3 separate regions of the Homo sapiens genome follow, and regions 2 and 3 are each linked to region 1. The links come from fine-mapping of genetic effects on gene expression. A gene starts in region 1. Each other region holds a variant in brackets. All regions are shown on one strand. Distances are between the middles of the regions. Region 1 holds the start of LITAF (lipopolysaccharide induced TNF factor). Region 2 has its middle 37 kb from the start of LITAF. Region 3 has its middle 20 kb from the start of LITAF.

The links. PIP is the estimated chance that this variant, and not a neighbour inherited with it, causes the effect.
Region 2: its variant is fine-mapped to the expression of LITAF in T cells (TOPMed, PIP 0.93).
Region 3: its variant is fine-mapped to the expression of LITAF in skeletal muscle (GTEx, PIP above 0.99).

The regions. Positions count from the first base shown.
Region 1 is chr16:11,583,211-11,590,750 of GRCh38, forward strand. It overlaps LITAF (lipopolysaccharide induced TNF factor), which reads right to left and starts at 3,709. Exons shown (of 4, transcript NM_001136472.2): 1 at 3,676-3,709. RefSeq lists an enhancer at 2,463-2,572 and silencers at 3,473-3,552, 3,583-4,062.
Region 2 is chr16:11,620,277-11,627,816 of GRCh38, forward strand. It overlaps a transcript of LITAF not described here. Among named protein-coding and RNA genes, the nearest start is that of LITAF, 37 kb to the left of the region's middle. RefSeq lists enhancers at 1,723-2,491, 1,940-2,229, 6,808-7,342. The variant T/C (reference allele first, on the strand shown) is at 4,180.
Region 3 is chr16:11,602,696-11,610,235 of GRCh38, forward strand. It overlaps a transcript of LITAF not described here. Among named protein-coding and RNA genes, the nearest start is that of LITAF, 20 kb to the left of the region's middle. RefSeq lists enhancers at 538-1,130, 2,580-3,079, 6,507-6,556. The variant A/T (reference allele first, on the strand shown) is at 4,577.

The sequences.
Region 1 (7,540 bases):
TGCAGGGCGGTATGTCCCACAAGTCAAAGATAAAGTTACCACAATCTTAAAGCCAGGTTCAAGCATGGCGTAATGACAAATCACAGTGATTTGTGGAATGGAAAATGCTTCCATCGGGGAGTTGGGCTGCTCCCCCACAATCAGAGTGGGCAGTTTTCCTCTGGACTCCTGGTGAAACCACATCCCTAGTTTCCACGTGAATCACAGTTTTTCATCAAACAGTGCAAGGAGATCATTAATAAGACTGAGACTGCATTAGGATACAAAATTGTATGAACGCTGATGACAATTTCATAGAAAACAGGCACAAAGACAAAAGACAGAAGCCGCCCGATAAGGACAGCCAGTGGTAGTTGTTTCGTTCTATAAGATTATGCCTTTCTTCTTTATCTTCCACACTTTAATATTTTTTAATAAAAAATTTCAAACTATCAGTGCATCATCTAGGAATAACCTCATGGATTCAAGTTTAAGGCAAGACATCATTAAGCTCTTAAACTTACCTGAGGCACACTGTCAATTAAATCTAAGGCTCCATGAGCTAAATAGCTTAAATTCTCCAACATTATTTTCTCTGAAGCCTCCAGCTTTGGATCCTGGTATATAAACTCCTACCTACTGCGAGGTGAGCAGAGAATTACCATCACATAGACACCCTCCAGAATGGTTCCTTTCTTGTGTCCATGCCTTAAGCTCTATGAAATTACACAATTCTTCTACTGAAATAACCTGCAGCCAAGGGACAACTTCATTAGCTACAAAGCTGTTGTCACCTGTGTCCAGAGTGTCAATCAATACAGGCTCAAACAACAAGATGAAATTATGAGGACCCTGGAAAATGCCACTTGACCTCAAATAACAATTCTTAGGCAAGTAAACATCAATCAAATTCAGAACAGACCATGGGTGGCCAAACAGACCCGGGAGACGTCAAAAATATGTGTGCTAAAGAAACACAGAACTAAGGAAGTCTATTTACCTGATAGACCGCCTCACCCACGGGGCTATTTTCACTGCTGTAAAAGCGAAAACAAATAGAGGACAAGTCACAGTGCCAAGAATACAGGACTTCCTCTTGCAGATCCTCTTTTTTCCACCCTCACTGTAGCTCTGGGGAAATTCCTATTCAGTGGGAGAAGTTTAAGTCACAAAACGGCACCAGCCCATTCTCAAAGTGCTATTATACACCTCTGAGCAGTGAGGATGGGTAATGTCAGCAAAATATGCACTGTTTATTTTCTTGAAAATTAACTTGGGCTGGAAACGCCTTCCAGCTCCTTCCTCTCAGTGGATTTTCCATTTACTGTCTTCAACCACCTGGGCTTGTCTGTACCTCTTCCACAGCTCTACTGAGACCCTCCTGTTTGTCTGAACTATGTCCTCATGTTCCTTCTGCCACATGTGCTCAGGCCTCAGTTTTTCCATGAAACTTTCTCTAACTTAGCTGCCTCCTTTCCACTGTTCTCAAGCCCTTTCTGGAGTTACAAGGGCATTAGCAAGCACCAGCTTTTTCGCCGGTGTGTGTTTCTACTTTCTACCCATTGCGTAAACCCCTCAGGACCAGGAGCCATTCTTCTGCATCCTTTACACGGCAAGGGTAGCGCTTTATTTCTCAACAGCCCGCCCATAAAAGGAACGGAAGTAACAAAGGGAAATGTATTCCCCAAAGACAGTGAATTACACTTCAATCTACTATTTTAGAGACTTAAGAAATGGGCCGGGTGAGGTAGTTCACACCTGTAATCCCAGCATTTTGGGAGGCCAAGGCAGGTGGATCACTAGAGGTCAGAAGTTCGAAAACAGCCTGGCCAACATGGCAAAACTCTGTCTCTACTAAAAATGCAAAAATTACCTAAGCATGGTGGCACCCAACTGTAATCCCCGCTACTTGGGAGGTTGAGACACTAGAATTGCTTGAACTCAGGCAGGGGGTTGAGGTGGGGTGGGGAGGGTTAGAGGTTGCAGTGAGCCGAGATCGCACCACTGCACTCCAGCCTAGGCGACAGTGAGACTCTGTCTCAAAAAAAAAAAAAAAAAAGAAAGAAATTGATCCTACGTCTTAGATCAATCACCCAGTCACTTAATCTGTGAAAACATTACAAGATACTTTCTCAAATGTGAATAAATGCATCAATTATTCATGCCTTAAAGTAACAGGAAAGAGGGAGATGGGCCTCCCTCATGGTAGATTACAATTAAATGTTTCTTAGAGAGTTTGGTGCACATTTAGTTCCCAGAGCAAGGGCTGGTGGAGAAGAAAGCCAAGTGCAATATGGGTGTTACTCTATGCCAGGTAAAGCAAGTCACACGCCATCTAGATCCTGCTCCAACTGATAAAACCAAAACACTGGTGGAATTCCAGATACCAGCCTGCACTTCTCTCTGTAGGCATCTGGGTTAGTCCTAAATAGGAAGTCCTAAAAAGAGTCACTCTGAGAAGGCAGGGGGTGAGAGGGCAGATGAAGCAGCCAAGCACACATTAAGGCAAATCATGGCTTTCCTAAAGAGGACCCCAAGCTGGGCTTCAGACAGTCTTTGAACCAGCACCAGTGCACCAGGCCAAGGGGAGGGAGGCATCCTCTTTGGGAAGACTGGTAGGAGCTTGGAAGACCCCGTGGCTTCCACAAACTGTAGATTTCCCAGTGACCACTGCTCAGTCCAACAGCCAGTGACATCAGCTCCACTGTCGGGAAGTAGAAAACCAGTGAAGGTCCAACTAGCCTGGTCCCTGAAGCATGACTGGCCCTTCCAGAACATACACCTTTCCCCTATCACCTCCTCTCCCTGACCCCGAAGAGCTTCGGGCACACCACCAACTGACCACCTATCCACAGTGACCTGCAAACCAGAGCGGGGAGGGTATTTGCCTAGCTTGGCAGGGAGGGGCGAGATCCACTTCTGCCACCAGTCACCAGCTGGTCCCACCAGCACCTACCCAGCACCGGCGGTGGACGGTGAGCGGCGTCTGGGCCCAGAGCTGGGTGCCATCAGCAGTAAGAGGACCCCTGCGCTCGCGGGGTGCCCGCCTTACCCCGCGGGGAGGGGTCAGGCCTAGGGGCCACGGCCCGCTTCGCTCTCTGATTTTCACCTCCCCAGGGTCTCCCAGGGGCCTCGGGTGTCCTTCCCGGATCTTGCGCGAAGTCGCGGGGGCAGGGAGAGAAACGCGGGTACCCGCGCCCCTAGAAGTCAAATGTTTGGCAAATAGCATTTGGGAATTCGTTGGGGTTTTTTTGTTTGTTTTGGTTTTGTTTCTGAACCCCCGGGGGATATTTCTGGAAATCTCAACCTGAGTCACTAGAGAGAATCGCGCCTTTTTCTAAAAAGCCCAGGGGCCGTCCTCTCCGGGGAGGGGGACGCGGCGGGCCGCGAAGGGCGCTCGTTCGGGTGGGGGCCGGACGACCCCGCCACGCGCGATCGGGCCACTCTGGGACGCAGGAGCTGAACCCAACCGGAGACGCGGCCGGGACCAGCGCTGGGAGGCCGGACCCCGCCCCGGCCGGGCCCCCACGCCCTCCGCCGCGCCTCGATGCCCGCGACCCGACCCGCGCCCCCTGGCATCCCAGGAGGCCCCAGCCAAGGGCTCAGTGCCCGGGGCCCCCAGCAGGTGCTGGCGCCACCGGCCCCCCGCTGTCTCCCGCTGGTCCCCGCGCCCCGGCGTCCCCGCGCCGCACTCACCGCCGCCCGCGCCGCCTGTCGAGCCGGGAGGTCTGAGCTGGCCTCTCGGGCGCCCCGAGAAAAGGGCCGGGCGGCGGGGACGGGGGCGGGGGCTGGACCCGCCGGGGCGGAGCGCGGCCGGCTTGGGCTTCCGGCTTCTCCCGCCCCCGCGGCCCGCACCTGGGCCCCAGGCGAGACCACCGCCGGTTCCCCGCCTCACTCTGATCGCCCCCAGGCTCCATCCCACACCCGGCTCGCTCGCCACCCCAGAGCTTCCCAGGCTTACCCCCGAGACGCCTGGCGCGGACCTGGTGTCTCCCCCACTCTCCTATCCTGCCCCTGCCTCTCGGTGCCAGCCCCACCCGTCCGCCCCCGACAGCCTGGCCCTCCCTCCTGATTTGCCGCTCGCGGCTCTCCCCACTTTCCCCCCTCCCCGCGCCGCTCCACCACTTCCAGGCGGCGGGACCACCAACCTCGACCCCGGACCCGCGCTGGGGCGCTCCCGGCCCTCTGGAGGGCGGCCCTTCTCTTCCTGTAACTCTACAGACGCGTCCGGACAGACCAAGACACTCTCTGTGCCTTCGGGCATGTTACCCATCCTCTCTGAGCTCGGCTTCCTGTCTGCAAAATGGGCACAATAGCGGTCCTGTCTCCTAAGACCGACTGGGAGTGAACTGGGAAGATGGTAAAGTTTTTAGCACAGGATAGGTATTAGGTAAGGCTTATCAGCTGCCTGTCCGCTTTGTGCCCCCAGGGTGGTCCGTGCCGCCAGGTAGGCCTTTCTCAGCCATCACTGAAAGCAAGCTCTGGAAATCAGTAGCCCCATTTCACATCCGCCCCTAAATGGGTGCCATCTGCCCGTCTGCTTGGAGCCCCATCGGCCGGCTGCAGTGATAACAGCAGCAGCCTGGATCCAGCAGGCTCTCTGGGAAATCATTAGAGGGAATTAAGAAGCATGCCTGGCTTTCAGAGTACACAGAGTCAGGAGATGGGCAGAACCATGATGTGGCCATCCACAAACAAACGCCATTTGGACAGGGAGCTTCCGAGCCCCATGCTGGCAAAGACCTGGATCTTAGAACCCTCCGGTGCCCAAATCCCATGCCTTTACCCGAGGTCCTAAAGATAGTGAGGCCCAGATAGGGAGTGTGGCTTGTCCCGGGTCCCTCAGCAAAGTGTCCCCAGCCCCAAGTTCTTGCCACCTTGCGCCATGTCCACTGACGGGCCACCCTCAGCCGTGGACGAGTTACCAAGTTGGAAGGGATTTCAAAGTTCTCCCAAGCATAGGAGGTTCCCATGTAGATGTTATTAGTGTGGGCAACATTTTACTGCTTTTAAAATATGAAGGGGGCGGGTGCAGTGGCTCTTGCCTATAGTCTCAGGACTTTGGGAGGCCATGGCCAGAGGATCTCTTGAGCCCAGGAGTTCAAGGCCAGGCTGGACAACATAGTGAGACTCCATCTCTATAAAAATTTTTTTAATTAAAAGAATAATAATAAAGCGGTGGAGTGGTGGCATGTGCCAGCTACTCAGGAGGCTGAGGTGGGAGGATTCCTTGACCTCCGGAGGTTGAGGCTGTAGTGAGCTATAATCGAGCCACTGCACTGTAGCAAGCAAGCAACAAAGAAAGAAAGAGGGAAAGAGGGAAAAGAGAAAGAAAAAAAAAAGAAAGAAAAAGAAGAAAGAAAGAGAAAGAAAGAAAGGGAAAAGAAAGAGAAGGAAAGAAGGAAGGGAGGGAGGGAGGGAGAAGAGAAGAACAGGAAATTGGATTACACCCAACCTCTGCCATTCCTCCATTCTCAGGATGCAACCAAGGCTTGCAAAGGTACCAATTATTATACTGACATTAAGACAGAATATCACAGACCATTGCTAGGGAGACATAACACCTAGGGAAAATCTCTCAGAGATAACGTTCAAGAAACATCCCTGTATGAATGCTTTTCTTCCTTCCTTCCTTTCTGTCTCTCCCTCCCTCCCAACCTTTTCTCCTTCCTTCCTTCCTTCCTTCCTCCCTTCCTCCTTTCCTCCCTTCCTCGCTTCCTCCCTTCCTTCCTGTAAAAAGCAGTAGTAAGCCTGAATTTTCTTCTGTCCTTTACTGAATACTACCACATCTTCATTTGTTTTTCTTTCCCCAACTGCTGAGCAGCAACAGGAGCCAGCTTTGTGTTTTTATCCATCCTAAACACTTACCACGGCTGTGAGCTTGCAATTATTTATGGGGAGAGCTATAAGACTGTAACTCTTTTCTTTGATCCCCAAAAAACCACAGAGATTGAATTTCCAACCCAAGGCTTCCAACCAGGGGGTAAAAGTAAACTGGGCCACGTGATCATCTCAATAGACGGAAAAAGCATTTGAAGAAATCCAATAATGCTTTCATGATTAAAAAAATAATAATAAACTAGAAATAGAAGGGAACTTCCTCAACCTTAGGGCTTCTATGAAAATCCCAGAGCTAATGACACACTTAATGGTAAAAGACTGGAAGTTTTACCCCTAAGAACAGGAACAAGCCAAAGTGCCCACTCTGGCCACCTCTGTCCAACATTGTCCTGGAGGTTCTGGCCATTGCCATTAGGCAAGAAAAATAAAAGCATCCAGATTGAAAAGGATAAAGTGAAGCTATCTCTATTCACAGGTGATATGATCCTATATGTAAGAACCCTAAAGAATGTACTAAATACCTATTAGAGCTAATAAACCAGTTCAGCAAAGTTGTGGGATTTAAGATTAACATACAAAAATCAGTTGCTTTTTTTTTTTTTTTTTTTTCGAGACAGGGTCTCTGTCACCCAGGCTGCAGTACAGTGGCTCGATCACAGCTCACTGCAGCCTTGACCTCCTGAGCTCAGGCGATCCTCCCACCTCAGCCTCCTCAGTAGCTGGGACTACAGGCATGTACCACTGTGCCCAGCTAGTTTTTTTTTGTAATTTTTTGTAGAGATAGGGCTTTGCTATGTTGCCCAGACTGGTCTCAAACTCCTGGGCTCAAGCCATCCACCTGCCTGGGCCTCCCAAAGTGCTGGGATTACAGGTGTGAGGCACCACACCCAGCCAGTTGCATTTCTATATACTAGCAATGAGCAATCCAAAAATGAAATTAAGAAAATGGCTCCATTTACAATAGCCTCAAAAGGATAGAAGCTGGGTATGGTGGCACACACCTGTAGTCCCAGCTACTCAAGAGGCTGAGGCAGAAGGATCCCCTTGAGCATGAGAGTTTGAATCTAGCCTGGGCAACATAGCGAGACCCCATCTCTAAAAAAAAAAAAAAGAGAGAGAGAGAATGTAATACTTAGGAAAACGCTTAACTAAGGAAGTTCAAACAAGACCTATACACTGAAAACTACAAAACATTGCTGAAAGAAATTAAAGAAAACTAAATAAATGGAAAGACATTCATGGACCAGAAGATTTAATATAGTTAAAGTGGTATATCAGTCAGAAATCTTTCAAAGAAAGAGAGAGGAGATATATACATATATAGATGGTACCAGACTTAATGATGGTTCAATTATGATTTTTTGACTTTATGATGGTGATACACATTCAAAAGAAACCGTACTTCAAGTACCCTTACAACCATTCTGTTTTTAACTTTTAGTATAGTATTCAGTAAATTACATGAGATATTCAATACTTTGTGATAAAGTATTGAATTAAGTAAAGGAGACCGTCTCCTTTACCTGAAGTCAACTAAAATAAACCACATCTGCAAAATACTTTTACAGCAACATCTAGATTGGTGTTTAATTGAATAACTGGGTACTATAGGCTAGCCACGTTGATGTGTAAAAGTAATGATCACAAATGGCAATACTTCCCAAACTGATGTACGGGTCCAATGTAATCTCTGTTTTTGTTGTTGTTGTTTTGTGTTTTT
Region 2 (7,540 bases), 37 kb after region 1:
TGGCTTGGGCCATCCCCTTGCTGATGAGTGAGCTCTCACTCTGAGTTCATGGGAGATCTGATTGTTTAAAAGACTGTGGCCCTCCTCCCAACACTATCTCTTGCTCCTGTTTTCGCCGTGGGACATGCCTGTTCCCCCTTCGCCTTCCACCATGACTATAAGCTTCCTGAGGCCTCCCCAGAAGCTGAACAGATGCCAGCACCATACTTCCTGTACAGCCTGCAGAACCATGAGCCCAGTAAACCTCATTTCTTTATAAATTACCCAGTCACAGGTATGTTTTTACAGCAATGCAAGAATGCCTAAAACAGCCTCCCAAAGCACTGGGATTACAGACGTGAGCCACTGTGGCCAGCCCACTTTCCCACTATTGAAGGTGATATGGAAAAAATAGGTCATTTCTATTCTGTGAAAGAATCAGCAGCACAAGTATGATGATATTAGGAACTTATTCTCAGCCTGTGGTCAGGGAGACAGACAATAGGGAGTGGTGGGGACTGTGACAAACTGAAGGGCAAGGCCCCATGTAACAGGTGCAGCGGGCACTGTCATGGCCCTGCCCACATCTCCCTCAGCAGCTGCTGCTCCAGGACATGTCAACACTGCACACTGGGCTCGCCATTTGTGACTTTCTATTTTGAGATGGTCTCGCTCTGTTGCCCAGGCTGGAGTGCAGTGGTGCCATCATGGCTTACTGCAGCCTCAACTTTCTGGGCTCAGGTGATCCTGCCACCTCAGTCTCCTGAGTAGCTGGGACTACAGGCGCACTCCACCACACCCAGTTAATTTTTTTTTTTTTTGAGATGGAGTTTCGCTCTTGTTGCCCAGCCTGGAGTGCAATGGCAGTGCGCGATCTCGGCTCACCGCAACCTCCGCCTCCCAGGTTCAAGTGATTCTCCTGCCTTAGCCTCCAGAGTAGCTGGGATTATAGGCATGTGCCACCACGCCCAACTAATTTTGTATTTTTAGTAGGGACAGGATTTCTCCATGTTGGTCAGGCTGGTCTCGAACTCCCGACCTCAGGTGATCTGCCCACCTCGGCCTCCCAAAGTGCTGGGATTATAGGCATGAGCCACTGCACCCAGCCCCAGCCAATTTTTATATGTTTTGCAGAGATGGGGTCTTGCTATGTAGCCCAGGCTGGTCTTTAACTCCTGGGTTCTAGCCATCCTTCTGCCTCAGCCTCCCAAAGTGCTGGGATTACAGGCATGAGCCACCGCTCCTGGCCCACCCATGACTTTCTACTTGAAGTTTTCTTCTTGGCCTATGTGCAGAACAGACTGGTATTAACCCCCCTCAGAAGCAGGCCTCCATCAAGGATAGACAGGAGTCAGAAGGGAACATCCCAGCCCCCTTGCCCCTCAGGAAGCACAACCCACGTTCTACACAGCTCCCCTGAATTCCCCGGCAGGATGCAGCCCCAGGTGCCCACAAGAGTGGCCGGCTCCCTGACACCTTGTAGTGTGTGTTGATTCTTTCCCTGCCCCGACTCTCTTCCCAACTGCTTGTGCTTCCTGAGATCCCCTCCCTAGTAAACCACTGGCACCCAGATCCTAAGATCCTGCTCTCAGAGCTCCGGGGCAATGCAAACTAAGATAAGAAACCAGCTCCTACGTTGCTGCAGCCCATTTCTTCTGGGTGGGAAGGCAAGACCTTCCCATTTTTTTCAAAAGAAACCAAGATCCAAAGTTTCTCGTGAAACCTTCTGAGGGTTCATTGCCAGCTCAAATTAAACAATGCAAAACAAAATGAAACAAAACACGTCTGCAGGCCCGCTCCAGCCCTTGGCCTTCCCAGTTCAGAGCTGTCGGTGGCTGATGAGGGTGGAGGCAGTGGGGATGTGGTTAGAGAGTGTGTTTGGGGGACCCGCCCTGGCAGCCTGGTGGGGACAGCTCAGAGGAGGTGCCACCATAAGCCAGGCGGCATGGCTTGCTCATGAGACCCCAGCTGGAAGCATCTGGACCGCCTGGCACGGCCACCCTCGGGCTGTCAAGAGACCCAGAGTAAACAGCCTGAACGCTTTCCCAAACACACAGACCCCAAGCCGCCTGCGGCCTCCCCCTGCTCCCTGGGTGGGGAGATATCCCAAGACCCCTCTGCCTGCCTGACATCTGAGCTCAGGCCCAGGAAAAACAAACCCCGGATGGCTGGAGAGCCCCCGGGAAGAGGCAGCAATCACGGGAGAGCCACTTGCAGACCGCACACTTGTGAACTTCATTTTAATTCTGTGCAGATGGAGGAGGCTGTCTGTGCAGATTTCCACCTCCCTACACAACCCCCTTCTTTCCTCTTGCAGAGAAAACAAAAACGGTGTCTCTCGAGATTGCTTTTGCACCGTTTAACAGGGTTATTTAAAGCCATTGCTTTTCTGCTGTCTTTTCAGAATGTAAATTAAGAATACAAGGTGTCGTGAAGGATACTGGAGGGGTAGGTGGTGATGTGAAATTTCAGTTCTGTGTGTTTATTGTTCTGAACCACCTAAACCCACCCATGCCTGCTCTAAACTGTGGAATATGCTTAGTGGATGTTAAGTTGGAGCTACATTCACTGAAGGGAAAGAAATTTCTGAGAACAGACCTTTCATGGGCCTCTGTGAAACAGGTATTTCGTATATCATTAGTTCATTTAATCGTCATCATGACCCAATTAGTTGTATAGTTTCATATAATGAATATATATATATATATATATATATAATTTTTTTTTTGAAACAGAGTCTCGCTCTGTCGCCCAGGCTGGTGCAGTGGCGTGATCTCGGCTCACTGCAAGCTCCGCCTCCTGGGTTCATGTCATTCTTTTGCCTCAGTCAACTGAGTAGCTGGGACTACAGGCGCCCACCACCACGCCCGGCTAATTTTTGTATTTTTAGTAGAGACGGGTTTCACTGTGTTAGCCAGGATGGTCTCGATCTCCTGACCTTGTGATCCACCTGCCTCAGCCTCCCAAAGTGCTGGGATTACAGGCATGAGCCACCGCGCCCGGCCGAATATATTTTTTAGATAGCAAAGGGAATTTATTTGCTCATATAGTTGGAAAGTCTGTGGTAAGGACTTCAGGCATGGCTGAATCCAGGAGCACAAATGCCATCATCAAGAATCTCTCAGGCTGGGCGTGGTGGCTCACACCTGTAACCCCAGCACTTTGGGAGGCCGAGGCGGACAGATTACGAGGTCAGGAGTTCGAAACCAGCCCGGCCAGCATGGTGAAACCCCATCTCTACTAAAGATACAAAAATTAGCCAGGCAAGGTGGCGCATGACTGTAGTCTCAGCTACTCAGGAGGCTAAGGCAGGAGAATCGCTTGAACCCAGGAGGCAGAGGTTGTGGTGAGCTGAGATCACAACCTTGCACTCTAGCCTGGGTGACAGAGCGAAACTTTGTCTCAAAAAAAAAAAAGGATCTCTCTCTTGGCCAAGTATGGTGGCTCACCCCTGTAATCCCAGGACTTTGGAAGGTCGAGGTGGGCAGATTACCTGAGGTCAGGAGTTCGAGACCAGCCTGGCCAACACGGTGAAACCCCGTCTCTACTAAAAATACAAAAATTACCTGGGCATGGTGGCAGGCGCCTGTAATCCCAGCTACTTGGGAGGCTGAGGCAGGAGAATCTCTTGAGCCCGGGAGGCAGAGGTTGCAATGAGCCAAGATCGTGCCATTGCACTCCAGCCTGGGTGACAAGAGCAAAACTCCATCTCAAAAAAAATTTTTTTAAAAGAAGAATCACTCTCTTGGCCAGATGTGATGGCTCACACTTGTAATCCCAGTACTTTGGGAGGCCAAGGCAGGAGGATCACTTAAGCTCAGGAGATCAAGACCAGCCTGGGCAACATAGTAAGACCCCATTTCTACCAAAAATAAATAAATAAATAAATAATTTCTCTCTCTCCGTCTCTTGCCTCTGCTCTCCTCTGTGATTGTATCATTCATTATCAGGTAGGCCTTTCCCTCAGAGGGGTAAAGAGGGCCCCCAGCAGTTCCAGCCTTATCCCCAACCAACTAAACATTTTTGGTGGAAAGAGAATATTTTCCAATAGTTCCAGCTAAACTCCCACGGTTGAATCTCACTGGTCCGGTGTGGGTCACGTGCCCATCCTCTGGTCAATCTCTATGGTTACAGCAATAGAATTCATGATAACAAGCCCCTCCCTGGAGTCTGAGACTGTCAGCCTCACTAGAATAGAAA[T/C]GGAAATAGGTAGTTACTATCCTCAGAAGGAGCCCTAGATGCTGACATTCAAAAATAACAAATGCCTACCACAGTGGGGCATGTGAGAAGAATAGGTGAGTTCTATGACATCTTGCACAGCAAGGCTGCCGTGACAGTTGCACAGGTTGTGCACTGCACATCTCTACAGGGTCTCCATTTATATTCACTATCACCCTATGTTTACAGATTTATCATGATAAATTTCCAACAGACTGCAGTTAAACATCTTCAGGAAGGGAAGTGTGATCGACTGAAAATGAAAAACATGGTCGCAGTATTTTGCAACTCTTCCTGTCAAGAGGTAGAGTCTATTTCCTTACCCCTCAAATCTGGGTGGCCTCGAGACTTGCTTTGACCAATAGAATATGGTAGAAGTGACTCTACAAATTTTGAGGCTAAGACTTAAGAGGCTTAGTTTCCACTCTGACCCTCCTGGCGTGCTGCCTGAGACTGCCCGATAAGACTACCCCATAAGAAGGCAAACAGCCCCCAGGAGGGTGAGAGGTCACGTGAAGGAGACCCAAGGTGCCCCAACCAACCAGCTCTGGACTGGAGGACCCAGGAAGGTGAGACAAACTGCTGGGTGAACTGTGCTGTGCCAACTCATTGAAGCTGAGAACTCAATTTCCCAGAATTTCCTCCCCATGTGGTTCTGGTTAGAGATGACCAAAAGAGGAACATGAGTGAAATTTGGAGAGTGGAGACAAAGCAGTGGCCGTGACTCTCTGAAGGTCACTGTGGTCCGGTGTGATGGTGGGTGGTGTCTCCCGAGATCACCTCCCAAAAACCTTTTTTTTTTTTTTTGAGACAGGGTCTCGCTCTGTCACCCAGGCTGGAATGCAGTAGTGCGATCTCGGCTCACTGCAGCCTCTGCCTCCTAGGCTTAAGCAATCCTCCCACATCAGCCTCCTGAGTAGCTGGGACTACAGGCACGTACCACCATGCCAGGCTCATTTACGCATTTTTAGTGGAGACAGGGTTTCGCCATGTTGCCTAGGCTGGTCTCCAACTCCTGGGCTCAAGCAATCTGCCCATCTCCGCCTCCCAAAGTGCTGAGATTACAGGTGTGAGCCACTGTGCCTGGCTCCAGATAAATTACTTGCACCCAAATTTCTGTCTCAGCATCAGCCTCTGGGGGAACCAAGTCTAAGACAGGCTTCTTAAGAAACCCTGAGTTCCCCTAGGTTGTGTGCTGAAGGAATGCAGTGACAGAAATCAGAGCAGAAAGAGATCAACCTTCCCTTTTAATCTTTCATTTATTCATTCATTTTACAGTCAGTGAGTCCCTGCTGTGTGCCCGCGCTGGAGACAGAAAGAGCCCAGAACTTGGAGTCAGCCAGGCTAGTTCTAACTCCAGCCCTGAGACACAGACAAGTCCCCCTAAGCTCTTGGAGCCTCATCTGATCCTCACAATGGTCCTACGAGGCAGAAAACCTCATGACCCCAGTGCCCATGAGGAAATGGAAGCACAGAGAGGTTGGGTGACCTGCCTAAGGCCACACAGCTGAACAGTGGCAGAACCAGGATTTGAACCTGGGAGTCAATTCCAGATCCCATGCGCTTAGTAAATTTCTCAGGAGTTCCAGAGACTGGGCTGATTGATGAAAGTTCCAGAATTTAGGACTTGTTCCAATAAATGGTATGAATTAGTTCCCCTATGTTTGTGAGAAAGATCCCACTACTTTACTTTAAAAAAACAAAACGAACAAAAAAAAAAACTTCTTTTTATACAGTGAGTCAGAGTCTTGCTGGAGTGCAGTGGTACAATCTCAGCTCACTGCAACCTCTGCCTCCCAGGTTCAGGCAATTCTCCTGCCTCAGCCTCCCAAGCAGCTGGGACTACAGGCTCATACCACCATGCTCTGCTAATTTTTGTAATTTTTTTTTAAGACAGTCTTGCTCTGTTGCCCAGGCTGGAGTGCAGTGGTGCAATCTCAGCTCACTGCAACCTCTGCCTCCTGGGTTCAAGGGATTCTTCTGCCTCAGCCTCCTGACTAGCTGGGACTACAGGCAGGCATCACCATGCCTGGTTAATTTTTGTATTTGTAGAGACCAATTTCACCATATTGGCCAGGCTGGTCTCCAACTCCTGACCTCATGATCTGCTGGCCTCGGCCTCCCAAAGTGCTGGGATTACAGGCGTGAGCCACCGCGCCCAGCCTGTAATTTTTTTTTAGTAGAGACGGGGTTTTACCATGTTGGCCAGGCTGGTCTCGAACTCCCACCCTCAGGTGATCCGCCCACCTTGGCCTCCCAAAGTGCTAGGATTACAGGCGTGAGCCACCTTGCCCGGCCTTTTAAAACATTTCAAGCTCTACTAGGTCCACTATATTTTTATTTAATGTGCTACTGGTGAAAATTTATTTCTTCTTTTTTTTGTTTTTTTTTGAAATGGAGTCTCTGTCGCTCAGGATGGAGTGCAGTGGCACGATCTTGGCTCACTGCAGCCTCTACCTCCCGGGCTCAGGTGATCCTCCCACCGCAGCCTCCCAAGTGGCTGAGACTACAGGCACGCACCACCATGCCTGGCTAAACAAGCTTCTTCCAGTCTGATCCCATCCCCCTAGGAACCCGGGTGTGGACGGCCTCTCTTACCTTTGCTGCAGACGCGTCCCTCCTTCCTAGCCCCAGGGGCTGTGTCATGCACATGACCAAGCCTGGCCAGTGGCTACCCAGCATCTCCTGAGCCTCAGTGATTGCTCCAGTAATGGGCATGTGACCCAAGCCAAGCCAATGACAATCAACCCCAAGACCCTTGCTGGAGCTCCTTGAATAAGACGAATTCTTTACAAGGCTGGTGAGATGAAAACCCGGAGCTGCCCAGCACCATCTTTGCCAGCAGGTAGAGCAAGCCCACTGGAGAATGAAGCCAACACAGAGAACAGCCAGGCTTGGAGTTGGAGACAGATCCCTGACAGCATGGTCTGAGCTTCTGGATCCAGCCAGGCCTGAAGCTCTTGCCCTCCCCACTTCCCAGTGACACAATACATTCTGCAATGGCATAAACCAGTTCCAGTGGGATTCTGGTTTTTGCAGCATTCTGCTATTCATCCTGACTAATGTATTAGACTTAAAAAAATACAAGGCCTGGGAGTGGCGGCTCACGCCTGTAATCCCAGCATTTTGGAAGGCCGAGGTGGGCAGATCACCTGAGGTCAGCAGTTCGAGACCAGCCTGGCCGACATGGCAAAACCCCATCTCTACTAAAAATACAAAAATTAGCCAGGTGTGGTGGTGCACGCCTGTAGCCCCAGCTACTCTGGAGGCTGACGCAGGAGAATGGCTTGCATCCGGGAGGCAGAGGTTGCAGTGAGCCGAGATTGTGCCACTGTGCTCCAGC
Region 3 (7,540 bases), 19 kb after region 1:
TTATTTCTATACGAGTGCCCGTGTGTACCAGGTTGTAAGATCTATTGTTCACTGTGGCTTGTTGCAAAAAAAAAAAAAAAAAAAAATTGGAAAGCCTTGAAATGGAAACTATCTAAAAGAAAGGACACAGGTGGGATTCAGTGACTGACTCACGCCTATAATCTCAGAGCTTTGAGAGGCCGAGGTGGGAGGATTGCTCGAGGCCAGGAGTCCCAGACCAGCCTGGGCAACCCAGCGAGACCCCATCTCTACAAAAAAATAACAAAAAATTAGCAGATTATGGTTGCCCATGCCTGTAGTCCCAGCTACTCGGGAGGCTGAGGTGAGAGGGTCCCTTGAACCCAGAAGTCCGAGGCTGCAGCGAGCTGTGATCACACCACTGCATTCCAGCCTGGGCAATCTAGAAAATAAAATAGAACACATTTAAAAATAAAAGGAAGAACACAAACAGTAAAGGGTGCCTCCCTCTGAAGAGGAGGAGGGGGTTGCAGGCAGGAGCTTTATATTATACAATTCTGTACTATTTGTGTGTTTCTTTTTAAACAATCAGCGTGTATTGCTTTTGCAATAAAATAAAGACCTTTAACAATCTTTTAGAAAAAATAAACTTCCCTGCCTCCATCCCCAGGATGGGGGCGGTGCTGTTTGAGCTGTCAGCAGGCTTTTGAGGTGAAAAAGACCAAATCCCTGCCCCAGGGGCTCTGCCTCCCGAGGGGTTTCAAGGGCCTCCCTGGCTGTCTTCCACGCGCCCTTCTCTTCCCCTCCAGAAATCCAGGGGAACATCCAAAAAGGAAACACGCCTTGAGATGTCGGTCTTCATTTTCCAAAATGGAACAGGCGCTCCAGTTTTAGCCTGGGAATGGCTGGAAACGCCCTGGGGGACACAGCTGCCTGGCAAGGTTTCCTAGCAGACAGAGCAATGCGGCAGTATCAGAAATGGTTCGGAAAATCCGCAGCCCCCATCCCAACCCGGCCACCTCAGCAGGCATGCAATTGTGTTTCCAGCTTAGCTGACAAAGAGCTCTCAGAACTCCTTCTTATAAATGCACATTTAAGAATCCACTAGAGGCCGGGCGCAGGGGCTCACGCCTGTAATCCCAGCACTTTGGGAGGCTGAGGCGGGCGGATCACAAGGTCGGGAGATCGAGACCATCCTGGCTAACACAGTGAAACCCCATCTCTACTAAAAATACAAAAAAAAATTACCCAGGCGTGGTGGCGGGCGCCTGTAGTCCCAGCTACTCAGGAGGCTGAGGCAGGAGAATGGCATGAACCTGGGAGGCGGAGCTTTCAGTGAGCCAAGATCACGCCACTGCACTCCAGCCTGGGCAACAGAGCGAGACTCCACTAGAGGCTGGGCGTGGTGACTCATGCCTGTAACTCCAGCACTTTGGGAGGCTGAGGCAGGAGGATTGCTTGAGCCCAGGAGTTTGAGACCAGCTTAGGCAACATAGTGAGACACTGGAGGGGTAGGTGGTGATGTGAAATTTCAGTTCTGTGTGCTTATTGTTCTAAATCAACCAAACCCATTCATGCCTGCTCTAAAATGTGGAATATGCTTGGTGGATTTTAACTTGGAACTACATTCACTGAAGGGAAAGAAATTCCTGAGAGCTGACCTCTCATGAGCCCCTGTGAAGCAAGTATTTCATATATCATTAGTTCATTTAATCCTCATTACGACCCAACTAATTGCACAGTTTTGTATCATAAATATATTGTTTAGATAGCAAAGGGAATTTATTTGCTCATATAGTTGGAAAGTCCATGGTGAGGACTTCAGGCATGGCTGGATCCAGGAGCACAAATGCCATCATCAAGAATCTCTCGGCCAGGTGTGATGGCTCACGCTTGTAATCCCAGCACTTTGGGAGGCCAAGGCAGGAGGATTGCTTGAGCCCAGGAGTTCGAGACCAGCCTGGGCAACACAGCAAGACTCTGTCTCTCTTAAAAAAAAAAAAAAAAAAAAAAGAATCTACTAGGTGGTGGCCACAGTTGTGTCACCTGGATGGTTCCCTATTATAAAATGTCACTGCAATAGATATTGCTGGGCACATGGCTTTTCTTTTCTTTTTTTTTTTTTAGGGTTATTTCCTTTGGGCAAATTCCCAGAAGTGTGATTACTGACGAGAAAAGTATAGACATTTCCAGGCCCCTGAAACGCTGCGTCAAACTGCTTCCTGAAGAGGCTGGGACCCACCCACGCCTGTTCAAGGAACTGCCTGCTCAGTGTAATGAAGCCACTGCCATCTCGGTCATCTTTGGATGTGAAACATCTGTTCTCCTGTGTCGGGAAGTTGGAGCAATGCGGGAAAGAACGGAACTTCCTTGCCTACTCCAGGAATCGGCCAGGACCACTGCTGGACGTGGGGCACTTGAATGGGTCCCTCACCCGTGTGCAGGCCCTCAGGGCTCCCAGGAACAGGAATGTGTCCTTTCCTCTCTCTCTCTCTCTCTCCACTGTGCAAACAGGGAGCCCAAGCTCTCAGCATCCCCCCAGCCAGCTCTGGATGGAGGATGAGCTGAATTACGCACCGTGGACTTCACCAGTGGGGCTGTGACAAGTGCCTGTGTCCCCGTGGGGAATGTGGCCCCTAGTATTCAATGGGGGGATGCCACGCAGGTCTGGCTATGTCTTCAGAAACCCCCACGAGGCCCAGGATTCCTCCCAGGCGGGATCCTGTGCACCTCCCGGAGGACTGGGAAGAGGGAAAGGAGCACAGCTAGCACTGCCCTGGGCTCCCTTCACAGTGTGGGGGACCCCTTCCCAGCCCCGTGTCTCTCTTTACAGCCCAGAGCCGCACAGGAGGGAGACTCCTAGGCAGGGGCCGCAAGGAAGGAAGGGAAGAAAAGGAGAAAGAAGGGAGGGAAAAAGAGAAATGAAAAGAAAAAGAATTGAGATGGGACAAGGAGTGAGAAGAGGGGAGGAAGCAAGAAAAAGTAAAGCAGCAGCCAGCCGGGCACGGAGGCCAAGGCAGGAGGATCGCTGGAGGCCAGGAGTTCGAAGCTGCAGTGAGCTATGATTGCACCACTGCACTCTAGCCTGGGCAACAGAGTGAGACCCTGTCTCTAAGAGAAAGAGAAGCAAGAGAGTTACCGTGAGAGCCCCGAGAGCTTCCCACACTACACATGTCACTCTCACAACCGCACCAGGAGGTAGGTTCCACTGTTCCCACGGAAACTTATCAATAGCTGCCTCTTTAGGATCAAGACCAACCTCTCCCACGGCCTGCGCACAGCCTGATCTTCTGGGAGCCCCCATTCTTCCTTCAAAGTGTTGCACACACAGGATATGTGATCATTGATTTAGTTGAGGGATCCTTTTTCGTTAAACTTATTGTGGGCTATTGCTATCAGACACAGAACAGGCATGATAGGCTGATGGCACTGACCTCTACACCCTACTCACCATCTGGTCTGTCTGATGCTATCCGTCCCACATGGTTCCCTCTGCCCCTGGATTTTTTTTAATTTTTATTTTTTAATTTTTTGAGATAAGGTCTGGCTGTATCACCCAGGCTGGAGTGCAGTGGCATGATCTCGGCTCACTTCAACCTCCACCTCCCAGATTCAAGCCATCTGCCCACCTCAGCCTCCCGAGTAGCTGGGACTACAGGCACGCACCACCATGCCCAGTTAATTTTTGTATTTTTTGTAGAGACGAGGTTTTGCCATGTTGCCCAGGCTGGTCTCGAACTCCTGATCGCAACTGATCCACCTGCCTCGGCCTCCCAAAGTGCTGGGATTATAGATGTGAGCCACCTCGCCTGGCCAGAAAAGTTCCTGAAGGAAATTAAAAGTACGCACATGAATGATAAGAAAGTGAAACAGGCTTACTGCTGATATTAATTTTATATGCACTGGAAAACCAAAACATTTCTGTGACTTGCTTTCTTGCAATTTTTGCTTTATTGTGGTGGTCTGGAACCAAAACCATAGTATCTCTGAGGTATGCCTGCAGCCACAAAACTACAACATGCCCAGGCTGGAGTGCAGTGGCACGATCTCGGCTCACTGCAACCTCTGCCTCCCGGGTTCAATCGAATTTCCTGCCTCAGCCTCCCGAGTAGCTGGGACTACAGGCCCCCACCACCATGCCCAGCTAATTTTTTTGTGTATTTTTAGTAGAGGTGGGGTTTTGCCATGTTGACCAGAGTGGTTTCGAACTCCTGACCTCAGGTGATCCACCTGCCTCAGCTGGTCAGAGTGCTGGGATTACAAGCGTGAGCCACTGCGCCCGGCCTACTTCACTGTATCCTTCCAACAACCTTACGAGCGAAGTGCTATTCCTGTCCTATATTATGGATGAGGAAACTGAGTTCAGAGAGCTTTCAGGAATGGCCCAAGGTCACACCACCATTTGGGAGTAAATCCACATCCTCACCCCAGGCAGTTTGGCTCCAGAGCCCCAGCTTCCACTGCTATTCTGAACTGCCTACAGTGTGGACCACGTTTTCTGTTCCAAAGTTGGGAAAGTAAAACCCCCACTCTCAGGGCAGGTGCCCCATGTATAGCTGCCTTGCCAAGCTGGCCTCAGCCTTGCATCACAGGCCTGCATCAGAGGATGCAATGTGAT[A/T]CTCACTATCATGTTCCCTGCAGAGCTGTGTCGAGAACAGTGCTGTCTCCTCCAGCACATTGCCTTGGCCCCTGTATAAGGGCCTGTAGGAGAAAAGCCCTTCACACCCAAGAAGGCTGGACTTCCCTTAAGCTCTTAATTTATTTTCAATTTTGGGTCAGTGAGAATCTTGAAATTAATTGGTTCTCTTTTTGCTCTGGCCACTAGGAAGCTCAGAGCCAAATGTATGTCCCACTTCTGAAAGTAGTGTGCTTTAATATGGGTATCATTCGGGAAAAAAAAAAAAAGTTCCTTCCTTCTTATTGTTTTCTACCTCAACGTCCTCATTAAAAAAATCCTGTTGTTTTGTTGGTATCTCTGTAAGTTACCTCGAATCCATCTTGGAAAAAGGCAAGGGTTGTGAATGCAAAAAAAAATTTAATAAATACAGGCACACATGAAAAACGAATGAACAACCATAACATCACCAGACCAGGGTTCATCAACCTTGGCACTATTAGTATTTGGGGCCAGGTCATTCATTGTTATGGGCGCTTGCCTGTGCATCATGGAAGGTTTGGCAACATCCCTGACCTCTTTCTAGAAACCAGTAGCACTCCTCCCCACATCATGGCATCCAAAGATGTCTCCAGATGACATCTCCAGATTTGTCTCCTAGGACCAAATTCCCTCCCAGTTAAGAACCCCTGTCCCAGCTCCCTGAAGGCAGGATCATTATGGTTTTACAACAGTAAACCCCCTCAGGCATGAAGCTGGCACTTAGCAGAAACAGCTGGCTGAAGAAATAAACTAATGCCTGCCCCAGTACATCATCCCTTTCCAGGCTTCCAGGACACAGAGCTCTTGCCATCTCGATCCTCCTAGCACCCCCATGGGATCAGAATTAGATCCTTGCGTCACAGATAAACCCCACTGGGGTTCAGAGAAGCTGAGCGAGTGGCCCAAGATCACACCGCAAGCACAGCCCAGGATAAAGGATAGAGTGCAGAAAGACTGCCTGTCCCTCGTTATGGTGAGAAGAACGGGGAGCAGTGAGGAAAGGGACGTAGCTGGATCATGGGGAACAAGTTGGATTCTACCGGGTGTGGGGAAAGGGGAGGGGAGTTCCCAGGTAGGGAAATCCCAGCATGAGCAAAAGCCCGTAGGCAGGAATTTGAGCAGCTTGCTTAAGAGTTGGGAACTCCCACAAGAATTGAAAACCTAAAAATCCATAGGAAACTGTACACAAATGGTGGAAACACCCCAAATGTCCGTCGACAGACAAGTGGATGAACAAAATCCGGTCTATCCATACAACGGAGCATTATTCAGCCATGGAAAAGAATAAAGCACTGATACGGGCTGCATCGTGGATGAACCTTGGAAACAGTACACTGAGTGAGAGAAGTCAGGTGTGAAATGCCACAGGGGGCCAGGCGCAGTGGCTCATGCCTATAATCCCAGCACTTTGGGAGGCCGAGGCAGGTGGATCATCTGAGATCAGGAGTTCGAGACCAGCCTGGCCAACATGGTGAAACCCTGTCTCTACTAAAAATACAAAAATTAGCTGGGCATGGTGCCGCATGTCTCTAGTCTCAGCTACTCGGGAGGCCGAGGCATGAGAATCTCTTGAACTCAGGAGGCAGAGGTTGTAGTGAGCTGCACTCCAGCCTGGGTGACAGAGTGAGACTCTGTCTCACACACACACAAAAAAAACAAAACAAACAAACAAAAAAAAACGCACCGAGTATACAGTTCCATTGATGTGAAATGTCCAGAACAGGCAAATTCACAGAGACAGAAAGCGGATTCATGGTTTTAGGGCTGGGGGAACAAGGAAATTAGACAGCGATGGCTAAAGGGGATGAGGTTTCTTTTGAAGCTGTAGAAAAATGTTCTGAAACTGACAGTGGTGACAGTTGCACAATTCTATAAACTAAAAGCCTTTGAATAGTAGACTTTTTTTTTTTTTTTTAATACGGAGTCTCACTCACTCTGTCGCCCAGGCTGGAGTGCAGTGGCGAGATCTCAGCTCACTGCAACCTCCACCTCCTGAGTTCAAGCGATTCTCCCGCCTCAGCCTCCTGAGTAGCTGGGGTTACAGGCGCCTGCCACCACACTCAGCTAATTTTTTTGTATTTTTAGTAGAGATGAGGTTTCACCATGTTGGCCAGGCTGGTCTTGAACTCCTGACCTCAAGTGATCCACCCGTCTCGGCCTCCCAAAGCGCTGGAATTACAGGCGTGAGCCACCGTGCCCGGCCTGAATGGTATGCTTTAAATGGGTGAATTGTCCGGTATGTAAATTACGTATCCAAAACACTCTTGGAAAAAAGAAAAAGGGATAAAGGGAGCAAAGGATTCAGGCTGCAGGACTGGCTGTGCCACTTCCCGGCTGCGTGACCGTGAGCAAGTTACTTCACCTCCCAGAGCCTCAGAGGCCCCCATCTGCTACGGTTGAGAGATGCCTGCTGTTCAAGGGACCGTAAACATTTGTCCCTGGCATGCCTCCTTCCTGCCCACTTCTCCCTCACACTCCAGAAGCCTCCAGAATGTCTGCTGCAGGAATGGGGCAATTCCTTGAAATCCAAACGGAAAAGACCAGGCTTTCCTGGCCAGTGATGGAAACAAATTTTCACTGTCGTCCAAGGCCTGGATGCTGAAATCACACCCCACCTTCTCTCTCCAGGCCCAGAGGTCCCCGCCTGTCATTTACAGTTTCAAGGCACCAAATGACCCCAATGATTTGCAAAGGATTCCCTATGGCCACCAATCTCTGCAGCCTTCAATCCTCCCCACCCTAGTCCCCACTGCTCCTGATGGCTTTGGGGGGCCTCAGGGAAGCACAGAGAAGCTGGGACTCACCCTGCAAAATAATCCAGCCCAGGAGGACTGGGTGGTGGGGGGACCCCATAAAGAAGCAAGTGTGTGAGCAGCTCCTCCGCACACAATGGCCCCTCAGAAACCTGTCCCAGGGGAAAACAGG